Linked DNA regions of Homo sapiens: region 2 is linked to region 1. Evidence: fine-mapped expression QTL. A gene starts in region 1. The other region holds a variant in brackets. All regions are shown on one strand. Distances are between the middles of the regions. Region 1 holds the start of NFIC (nuclear factor I C). Region 2 overlaps NFIC (nuclear factor I C).

Region 1 (5,204 bases):
CCCCCACCCCCCGCCAGCCTCGGCTCCCGAGAAGGATCCGGGTCGGATCAGCTAAAAGGGAGCTATTTTCGGTTGGGCTCAGGTTGTAAAATTAGCTGGGAAAAGGGGGAGAGGGAGGCCCAGAGACAGAGAGAGACAGAGAGAGAGGAGTAAGGAGACACATGCAGAGATAGAGAGAGACAGGGAGAGAGGGGGCAAGGGGAGACACGCAGAGACAGAGGAGAAAGGGAAGGTGAGACAGAGATGAAGAGACAGACAGACATATTGGAGAGAAACAGAGACAGAGAGGAAGGGGGCAGAGAGACAGAGACAGAGAAACAGACAGAGACACATCGGACAGACACACAAAGAAGGCAAAGGGAGGGAGAGACAGAGAGACAGAGACACATCAAAGAGACATGCAGAGACAAAGAGGAGAAAGGGATGGTGAGATAGACATGAAGAGACAGAGACAGTGGGAGAGACTGAGACATCAGAGAGACAGAGGATGAGAAAGAGAGACACAAAGAGACCAACAGTGACTGGGAGTGAAACAGAGGCGGGGAGAGACAGAGATGGAGAGACAGGGAGAAACAGACACACACACACACACACACACACACACACACACAGAGTCAGAGCAAGACAGAGAGAAAGAGAGAAAGACAGACAAAAAGAGACCAAGATGAGAGAAACGGAGGGGACGTGATTCGGGAAACTGAGTCAGGCAGCCAGGACTTGGGTGGGAGGCTCCTGCATGGGGCACTCAGGGTCCTTCTGAGTCCCCCAGCCCACCCCACTGGCTACCCCAGACCAGGCTGGGCCTTGGGGGAACAGTGGGGATTACATTCAGGCTGAAGACAAACTGGAAAGGGGGTCCCCAGCTCCACTACAGGGCTGGGGTGGAGGGCGGGGCAGAGAGGAGAATCGCAGGGGAGGAGGGAGCCCCCTGCACTTGGGACTCGCTGTCCCCACTCTGGCCTGGGAGCTCTCTGCCTCTGTCTCTCTGCCTGTCTCTGTCTTCTCATCTCTGTCTCTTGCACGCAGCACCCCTGGATAGTTTTTAGTTTTTAGCCTCTCCGTTTTTTGGTTTCCACAGACAGCCCTCCTGGCTGGTCCTTGCCCTGTTCCTGGAGAAACTGAGGCCGAGTTAGCAATTCTCTGAGGCAAAGCCTGGACTGGGGTTCTTACTAACCCCCAACCCACCCCAGCAACCAGGATGTCTCCCAACCAGCCCTGATGGGGGAATTCCAGGGTGCACAGGCAGCCTTCCAACCTCCCCAGCCTGGAACAGCCTCCCCTCCGCTCAGCCCTCCCAAATGGCTCCTTCCAGCTGGTGAGGACAGAGCGGGGACACCTCAGTCACCCCACAAGCCCAGAGACTTCAAAGGCTGCCCGAGGTCACACAGCGTGCCCACTCGAACCCTAGTTGTTCTTGGAGAACTTCAAAGAGATGCCTTCTTCGGGAACCCCCCCCCCAAAGCTGCTCAGAAAGGGAAACTGAGGCTGGGACAGGGACTTACCCAAGGTCACTCAGGGGATCACAGGTAGGACAGACCTCAGACCCCCTCAGCACCAGCTCCCACATTCCCTGTCGGCTGCAGGGGGCCGGTGAGAAAGACCCTACCAAGGAGCATGCCTGGCGTGGGGGGTCCCTCACTGCACCATGCCCTGGAGCGGAAGCCGGGGACTCATATACTCCCCACACAGTGCTTCTTAAGACGGGCCTGGCCCTCGCTGGAATCGCACCCCCCACGTGCCGGGACTTTACAGTTTGCCCGCCATACTGTCCCCTCTCCAGAACCGGCCTTAGCCGCACCTCACTTCAGGGGAAACTGAGGCCAGAACCTCTCCAGCCTAAAGACACACTGCGTAAGGAGGAAAGCAGCGGTCTAGAAAACGGAACTTGCAGACCTCGGGGTCCCCGGGAGCCTGGGCTGGAAGGAGTCCCCGGGGGGAGCCGCCCCCTCCCCACACACCCCCTCGGCCATTGCACAAGGCTCGGCCCCGGGGCAGTCTGGGAGTGCGGCCAGGGGTGAGAGGCTACGGGAGGGGGAGGGGGAGGGGGAGGGGACGGGGCAGGTGCCGGGCTGGCGAGGGCGTCCGCAGCGCCGCAGTGCCCGGGCCAGACCCGGAGCGCCGGGCCTCCCGCTCCTCCCGGCGGCGGCTCCAGAATCCAGAATCCAGAATCCAGAATCGATGCAGCGAAAATACCGGGACGGTGCTGGGGGGCTTGCAAAGGAGGGGGGACCCAGCCGGGCCGCCGGAGCACCCTTCCCCCTCCTGGGCCTCCAACTTCTCCTGCCCCCTCCCCCTCCATGCACACGTGGGCCAATAACGAGGGAAAGGCGACCGAGGGCCAGGGCGGCCCGCACAACCTTGGTGGGGGGACACGGGGAAAACACATGAGAGGTCCCTTTCTCTCCAGCTGGGGAGACCCAGGGTCCAATCACGACCCCCTAGATTCCTCTCAGAGGCAGGCGGGGGGCTTCCCGCAGAGCCCTTGCTGGAGGGGGGCCAGCCCCCACCCCGACCTTTCCGAGTGTCGGGGCGGGGGTGCGGAGTGCGTCGGTGTGTGGGGGGGGGACGCAAATCTGCAGACCAAGCCCCACATCCGGGAGAGGTCCCGAGAGTCGGGGTTGGGGGTGCTGGGCGGGAGTCCCGCGTAGGGGGTCCGCGGTAGGTAAGGGTGTGGGGGGGGTACCCCAGCCTGACCCATCCCCCCACCGGACCCCAGCCCTCGGCGCGGGGGGCATCCCGGGCAGGGATGGCGGGAGGGACGCGCGCCTTTTTCGTCCCGCCTCCTCCTGCTTCAAAACTCCGGGGCTGGGATGCGGGGGGCGCGGGGGCGCCGGCGGGGGGCCGGGCGAGGACCGTACCTGGGTGAGGCAGAGCGGGGACGAATACATCCCGGGCGCGGCGGGAGGCGCAGGGCCGGCCGGAGCGGGCGCGCTGAACTTACTGAGTCATTTTTCCAAACCACCCCCCCGCCCCCCCCAACCCCCCCCCCCGCCCCGCGGCCGGCGCGCTCTCCTCGCCGCCTCCTCCCTCGGTCTCCCTCCTCCTCCCTCCTGCTCTCCCTCTCTCGCGCCGCCCGCCTCGCTCTCTGTCCCTCTCTCCCTCCGTCTCTCTCTTCCTCTCTCCCCCGTCTCTGTCTCTCTGTCTCTCTCTCTACCCTCTGACACCCTCCCCCTCCCACCCCGAACCTCCCACTTCTCAACACCCAACTTTCAAAGAAACGAGGGAAAAAAGGGCGCGAGCGAGAAAGGAGAGCCTCCCCCGACGTCTCAGGACCCCCCCGCTCCTCCCGTATTTACGCAATGCCCCAGGGCACTAGACCAGGACCCCAGGACTGCAGGGCGACCCCAATTCGGATCAAGCGGAGAGGGGGGACAGGGTTGTTTCTGGACATTGAGGGGCCAGGGGTGGATTTTTAAGGCCCCCCCTCCCCACCCCCCCATCACCCCCGAGCTGGCCGGGAAGTTGGAGGAAAGAGCCAGGGGGGAGGGAAGGAATGAAGAAGTGACGTGCGCAGAGGCCGGCCAGCGCGCCTCTTTCCCCTTAAAGATGTACGACCCTGGGTGCACGGTGAGCTGGTCCCACAGCACCCTGGCTCCCTTCTCCCCCCAGAGCCAGGCAGGGGCTGCGGGTCCCCAGCTAGAGGGGCTTGTGTGCAGCTGTCCCTTCCTTGGCCAGAAGGGCCCAGGCTAACACGGGAGGCTCCAGAATTTGCTCTCTTCACCCAGCACCCAAGGGGCAGGGGAGGGGTGGCCTCGCCTGTGTGTCTCTCCAGCACCCCAGGAGGACGGTGTCCAGGCGGGATCTCCAGCTGGCCAGATAAACCCTTGCAGCCTCCCCCTGGGTATCCAATAATTTCCACCTGCCTCAGGGGTGTGCCCTTTTCACAGATCTCAAGACTGAGGTATGGCAAGTGTGGCTTGGAGCCAGGCCATCTGGACCTGGAGCCCACATTCTGTTCTCCTTCTAGACGTAACAGGGCAGAGACCTGGCCTGCCTCCGTCTGAGCCCCCAGGGCATCTGATGACAGGGCCCCAACCCTCCCCCGGTTCACTCCCTGGATCCTCCCAGGCTAGCTCAGAGGCTGCTGTGTCTCTCATTCCCATCCCAAGGGTTCTCCCCTATAAAGTGGCTTAAAGATGCCCATCCTGTGGGATTGCTGGGGATAAGGACAATGACCTTAGCAGAGCCTTGACCTTGGGTCAAATGTTCACTAAAGACACATTCTTAGAAAGCTTGGCCATTTCACCTCATCTCTCTGAGCTTCCCAAGGACAAATGATACCCTCTCACCAAGCTGGGGCAGGTGCCCCAGGCCCAGGGGCGCAGAAGATACCAGCACCCATTATCCTCAGGCATTACAGGAGAGGAAACTGAGGCCCAGAGAACGGAAGCCACTTGCCCAGGGTCTGACAGGTAAACTAGGAGGGAGCAGAATTCCTGCAGCGTAGGTTCCCTAGGCCCCCCACAGGCTCCCCTCTGCATGACGGTGACATTATTCAAACAGTGCTTAGTACATCACGAACGGTCCATAAATGTGTGTGTCTGTGTATTTTAAACCCACTGTGCAGCTGTGGGGAGCATTTGAATTAAATGGTGAGAAGTGTATCTGGAAATCCACATACCAATATAACGTGAAGCAATTTATTTTATTAAAACACGCTAGGGACACATACAGGGTGAAATCTAAAATTCACAGATATTTAAAAGTTGCAGTTGACTTCAGACACTCCTCCTAGACTTCCAGACCCCGTGCCTTCCACCCTCCCTCCCCTGTACAGACCACCCTGCCTGCAGCCTTCATTCAGCAGCTTAGAATCCTTTGGAAGGTGAAGTTTAGAGAGCAGAGACTGCCCCTCTTGGAACCTCGGTTTCCTCATCTGTAAAATGGCTATAGTAACAGGATGCATCTTGGGAGGTGGGGAAGGTTGGAGTCTTTACATAGCATGTGGGAAGGCTGTGTGAATATTATTGGTGGCGGTAGCTGCAGGGAGAAACTTCTGCAAGTGTACGAACAGCAGCCTATATCCCAGTTTGGGTGGCAAGGGACCCCCGCAGCACACACAGTTGGTTCCCTAAATTGCCGCGTGGGCTCGCTGCTTGGGTCTATGTCTCCTCCAGTCAGCAGCTTCGTCTCTCTGCACCTCGGCTCTCCCTCTGTGAAATGGGGCGACGCCAGCTCATAACCCTCCAGGTTGTAGGCAAGTC
Region 2 (5,466 bases), 95 kb before region 1:
GAGAGCGGCCCACGCTTTGATCCCCAAGGGCCACCGGGGGAGCGGGCCCCGAGGACAGACGGACGGAGGGACCAAGGGCTCGAGGCCAGAGGATGGCGAACCTCTCTTGGGGGTGATGGGGGAGGGTCCTGGGTCTTTCTCTTTAGGAGCGAGCGGGTTCGCCAAGCTCCTGAGGCTAGTTTGGGAGGAGAGTCTGGTTTTCGGGGGCAGGGGGGTGAGGCTAGGAGCAGGTGAGACCCGGAGACCTGCCCTGGCTTTGGCCTGGGTCGGGGGAGGGGGCAGTGGTGGGGGGAGTTTTTCCCTAGGCATGGAGGTCAGTTGGGGCTGGGCTGGGTGGGCCGGGGAGGGGTCCTTGTGTTTGAGCTCGGTGGCCCTAAAACACCTAACACCCCCTCCCAGGCCTCCCCTAAAGATGGCGATCCTGGGGTGGGGGTGGAGGTGTGGATAGGGCCAGGGAGCCGGGGTGGGGGGGCACCTGGCGTCCCCAGCTTAGTGTTTTTGGAGCGGCTCAACGGAAAAACGCTTAGCAGATGGGAGGCCCCCTACACGGCTGCGGGGGGCCCCAAGGTGCGACGCCGAACCCCCCGAAAACCCTCCCCGTTCCGAGCGGGGACCGCTGGCGTCGGCCTCCTCTCTCCTCTGGGGGCCCAGCCGTGATGCACGTCCCGCAGCTGGGCCCCGCGTCGGGGTAGGCGATGAAAGTGCAAACGGCGGTCCCCCTTCGCTGGGAGGCACCAGGGAGGGGGGTCGCTCCAGAATGTAAGGCACTGGCAGCGGAGGCGTGGGGGGCGCACCGGCTTCCCCAGAGCCCACCCCCGCGCCCCGGCAGGGCAGGACGCTTGCGAAGTGACGCCCAGCTCTGCCCCTCGGGCCACGCAGGGGCCCCATCTCTCTAGCTCTGGGGGGGCACGGCGATGAGGGTTGACTGGAGGGGCTGGTGGAGAGGCTGGAGGGGAGGGGGAGGAGGCCCGCGGCCATTCCGTGTCCCAGCTGGACAAAGGGGGGGGCGGGTGGTGGTAATCAGGCACTTAAACCACTCGCTCTCACCTCCCACCGCCAGGGGCTGACGGGGGCGCTCCAGACGGGCACCCCCAACTCGGGGAGCTCTGGGTGTCCGGGCTCCCCCATCCCCTTCCTCGGAAAGTGCATTTCTTACAGTGTGTGCAATGTGGGTCCCTCCCTTTGGGGGTGTGAGCCGGGCGAGGTGGGGGGGCCTCCTATGCCGGGGGTGGGGGGTGGAGGGGCCGGGGCCAATTGCATAGAGACTTCTCCTCCCAAACGGGCGGGCGCGAGGGCTGAAAGAGTCCCCAGCGAGACAGCGAGTCGGCCGGCGCTTTGGGAGGGGCTTGTGGGGAGGCCCCGCGGCAGGCAGGGCCCCCTCGAGGGGCAGCAGGTGCCTGGGCCTCACTTCCTCCCCTGGCCAGGGCTCGCAAGCGCCACGCACCCCCGCGACACCACTCGCCTGCCCCACCCTGCCCGCCTCTGCGGTCTCCGCTGCCCGGCCGGGGTCCGCTGTGTCTCCCTTTCCCCCCAGTGGCTGCGTCCTCGGTGGGGGCTGAGGGGCCGGTCCGTGTCCGGCAGAGGCGCGGGGGCCCGGGGAGAGGTGGCCTTGCTGGGTGTCGCGCCTGTCGGCCCTGGGCACAGGCTCCAGGCTGTGCTCACCTGGTCTCCGGACAGAGCCAGGGCCTCCGGGGCGCGGGCGGGCGGCCGGCGTCTGTCCTTCCCGAGCAGCAGGCGGAGAGGAGATGAATAACTTAGGAAGACGCCCTGTCCCGGGTCTCCCGTGGGGGTGGCGGGGCCTGGCCCTCCAGTCCTGCGGCCTTGGCGTCCCGAGAGTTGGAAACGTTGCGTCTTTACCTTTTGTCTTCTTGCTTGGGTGGGTTTTTATTTCTTCTTCTTCTTCTTCTGCCTTTGTTTTTTCTTTTCCTCCTGAGTGTGTGCGTCTATGTGTTTTGTCTTTTTGGCCGGGCTGGGAGTCGGCAGGGGTGTTCTTGTTCACTCTAATTTTCCACCGAAAACGTGGGCCGGGGGCCGGCTGTGCTGCCCCCTGGGATTCCTGGGACGATGGAGAAGGGGCGAGGGAAGAAGACCTTTGCTATCCCAGATACCAGGACTGAGTGGCCCAGTGGCGACAGAAAGAGGGAGAGAGAAAAAGGGAGAGAAGTCGAGGGGTCAGACTCTGCTGCAGACATGGTTTACCTCTTCCCACGCTCACCCCCCACCTCCTGCAACCCTGTGACCTCAGTTTCCCCATCCCAGGCTCTAACAACCTGCTGGGTGACCCATGGCAAGTGACTTTGTCTCTGAGGGAGGCTTCCAGACACAGTACAGGATGCCCAGTGAAACTGGAGTTCTGGTTAACACAGAATTCTTTTAGTATAAGTCTAGCCCACGCAACATTGGGGATATACTTACACACCACACACAAAAGATCCATTTATCTGGAACTGTATTTTATATTTTATTTATTATTTTATTTTTTGAGATGGAGTTTCGCTCTTGTTGCCCAGGCTGGAGTGCAATGGCGTGATATTGGCTCACTACAACCTCTGCCTCCTGGGTTCAAGCAATTCTCCTACCTCAGCCTCCCGAGTAGCTGGGATTACAGGCGTCCACCGCCACACCTGGATAATTTTTGTATTTTTAGTAGAGATGGGGTTTCACCATGTTGGCCAGGCTGGTCTCAAACGCCTGACCTCAAGTGATCCACCTTCCTCGGCCTCCCAAAGTGCTGGAATTACAGGTGTGAGCCAGCACTCCCAGTCTGGAACTCAATCTTACTTTATTATATTATATTATTTATTTATTTATTGAGAC[A/G]GAGTCTCGCTCTGTTGCCAGGCTGGAGTGCAGTGGCATGATCTCGGCTCATTGCAACCTCTGCCTCCCAGGTTCAAGTGATTCTCCTGCCTCAGCCTCCCGAGTAGCTGGGATTACAGGCGCATGCCACCACACTCAGCTAATTTTTATATTTTTAGTAGAGACAGGGTTTCACCATGTTGGCCAGGATGGTCTCACTCTCTTGACCTCGTGATCCGCCCGCCTCGGCCTCCCAAAGTGCTGGGATTACAGGCGTGAGCCACTCTGCCTGGCCTTTATTTTATATTTTAAAAATTATTTTCTTCTCTATTTATTATTTATTTATGAGACAGAGTCTTGCTCTGTTGCCCAGGCTGGAATGCAGTGGTGTGATCTTGGCTCTCTACAACCTCCGCTTCCTGGGTTCAAGTGATCCTTGTGCCTTAGCCTCCCAAGTAGCTGGGATTACAGGCCCGCCCCACCACACCCAGCTAATTTTTGTATTCTTAGTAGAGACCGGGTTTCGCCATGTTGGCCGGGCTGGTCTTGAATTCCTGGCCTCAAGTGATCCGCCCACCTTGGCCTCCCAAAGTGCTGGGATTACAGGCGTGAGCCACTGTGGCCAGCCAATTTATTATTTTATTTTGAGACAGGGTCTTGCTCCGTTGCCCAGGCTGGAGTGCAGTGGTGCCATCATAGCTCACTGCAGCCTCCATCTCCTGGGCTCAAGTGATCCTCCCACCTCAGCCTCCCGAGTAGCTGGGACCACAGGTATGTTCCACCACATCTGACTAGTTTTTTTTTTTTTTTTGTAGAGGTGGGGTTTCGCCATGTAGACCAGGCTGGCCTTGAACTCCTTCCTCCCAAAGTGCTAGGATTACAGACATGAGCCACCACATCAGCTGCCTTGTTCACTTTATAAAGAGGTTTTTTGTTGATTTTTTGAGACAGCGTCACGCTCTTGTCACCAGGCTGGAGTGCAGTGGCACGATCTTGGCTCACTGCAACCTCTGCCTCCCGGGTTCAAGTGATTTTCTTGCCTCAGCCTCCCGAGTAGCTAGGATTACACGCATGCGCCATCACACCCAGCTAATTTTTGTATTTTTGGTAGAAACGGGGTTTCTCCATGTTGGCCAGGCTGGTCTCAAACTCCTGACCTCAGCTTATTCGTTTGCTTTGGCCTCCCAAAGTGCTGGGATTATAGGCATGAGCCACTGCACATGGCCTTGAGAATGTTTTTAAAAAGTAAACAAGAGGCTGGGCTCGGTGGCTCATGCCTGTAATCCCAGTACTTTGGGAGACCAAGGTGGGTGGATCACCTGAGGTCAGGGGTTCGAGACCAGCCTGGCCAACATGGTGAAACCCTGTCTCTACTAAAAATACAAAAATTAGCCAGGCGTGGTGGCACGTGCCTGTAATCCCAGCTACTCGGGAGGCTGAGGCAGCAGAATCGTCTGAATCCAGGGGGCGGAGGTTGTAGTCAGCCAAGATCGTGCCATTGCACTCCAGCCTGGGCAGCATAAGACTCCGTCTCAAAACAAAAACCAAAAAAACCAAAAAAAAACAAAAAAAAATTCTCCTCTTTAATGATGTCCCCGGTATCCCCGTGAAGGAGGGGGTAGGTCTCCCTCCACCGCTGTTTTGTGTGAAGAAAGTGAGGCCCAGAGAAGTCAAGGAACTTGCCCGAGGTCACCAGCATGGAAGCGGCAGAGGTGGAACTTGAACTCAGGCCTGTCTGGCTCTGGCTCTCATTTCTGCTCCTGCCCAGGGCCAACCCCCTCGCCTGCCTCTCAGGAATCCCCTTGGCATCTTCTGAGCACTGTCCTGGGCGTCCAGGGCCCATCCTGTCACAGGTCCCCCGGATGGCCCCCTCTTGCTCCACAGAAGCTCACTAAGCACAGGGGGGCTGAGGATGACTCTCAACCTCCCAGAGGCGGGAGACCGAGGCTAAGGGAGGGGAGTTCTGCATGGGGCTGTACCCAAGGTCACGTCATTTGGGGACAGCTCCGGCCTCAGTCTCTGCAGAGAAGCTGCTGTCCAGACCCCTGCCCTGGAAACGCAAACTCCAACCCCAGATGGAGCATCCAGGGTGGACTGTGAGGGGAGGGCTGTGCCTCTGGAACTGGGGAGACCCCTCCACTCCCCAACTGAGGTTAGAGGTGGGGCCGCCCCCCACCGCTGCAGCAAATCATTCAACAGAGCCCCTCCAACCAGGCAGCCACTGGGCCAGCCCATGGAACTGGCGCCACAGTGGTTCCCAGCGCCCCACCTCCAGCCAAGTTCAAGTTCATCTTGGCCATTACCTCATGTCTGGTTTCTGTTGGCAACCGACAGACTCTGGGCGTGACCCTCCCCGTGGTGGACCAGCCTCCCCTCAGCCCTTCCTCCCTCCTCCCTTCCCTCCCCTCCCCTTCCTGCCTGGCTGTGGCCCCAGCAATGGGGCGGGGGTGGGGTGGGGGCACCCTCAACTCCACATCCTCCCACTCAGCTGAGGGGAGACTGAGGCAGTAGGTGTGAAGGGGGAGGTTTGGGCTCTGGTATCCTGCTGGCCTGGCTGCAGCCGCCTGTGTGGCTCCCGGCATGTGGCTCAATGCCCGCCTTGCCCCCCACCCTCGGTTTACCCAGCTGCTTACGTGGGTTCCCGTGCAGGAGAAATGTAGGGGCGTGAAG

The links. PIP is the estimated chance that this variant, and not a neighbour inherited with it, causes the effect.
Region 2: its variant is fine-mapped to the expression of NFIC in tibial artery (GTEx, PIP above 0.99). The same link has a PIP of 0.9 or more in esophagus muscle, lung and sigmoid colon.

Annotation. Positions count from the first base shown.
Region 1 is chr19:3,364,321-3,369,524 of GRCh38, reverse strand. NFIC (nuclear factor I C) reads right to left here and starts at 2,942. Exons shown (of 11, transcript NM_001245002.2): 1 at 2,859-2,942. The coding sequence starts at 2,888. RefSeq lists silencers at 1-162, 1,934-2,333, 2,624-2,773, 3,224-3,313.
Region 2 is chr19:3,459,399-3,464,864 of GRCh38, reverse strand. NFIC (nuclear factor I C) reads right to left here. Exons shown (of 11, transcript NM_001245002.2): 11 at 1-2,113. The coding sequence ends at 2,096. Among named protein-coding and RNA genes, the nearest start is that of SMIM24, 18 kb to the left of the region's middle. RefSeq lists a silencer at 603-803 and enhancers at 1,255-1,790, 1,791-2,326. The variant A/G (reference allele first, on the strand shown) is at 2,818.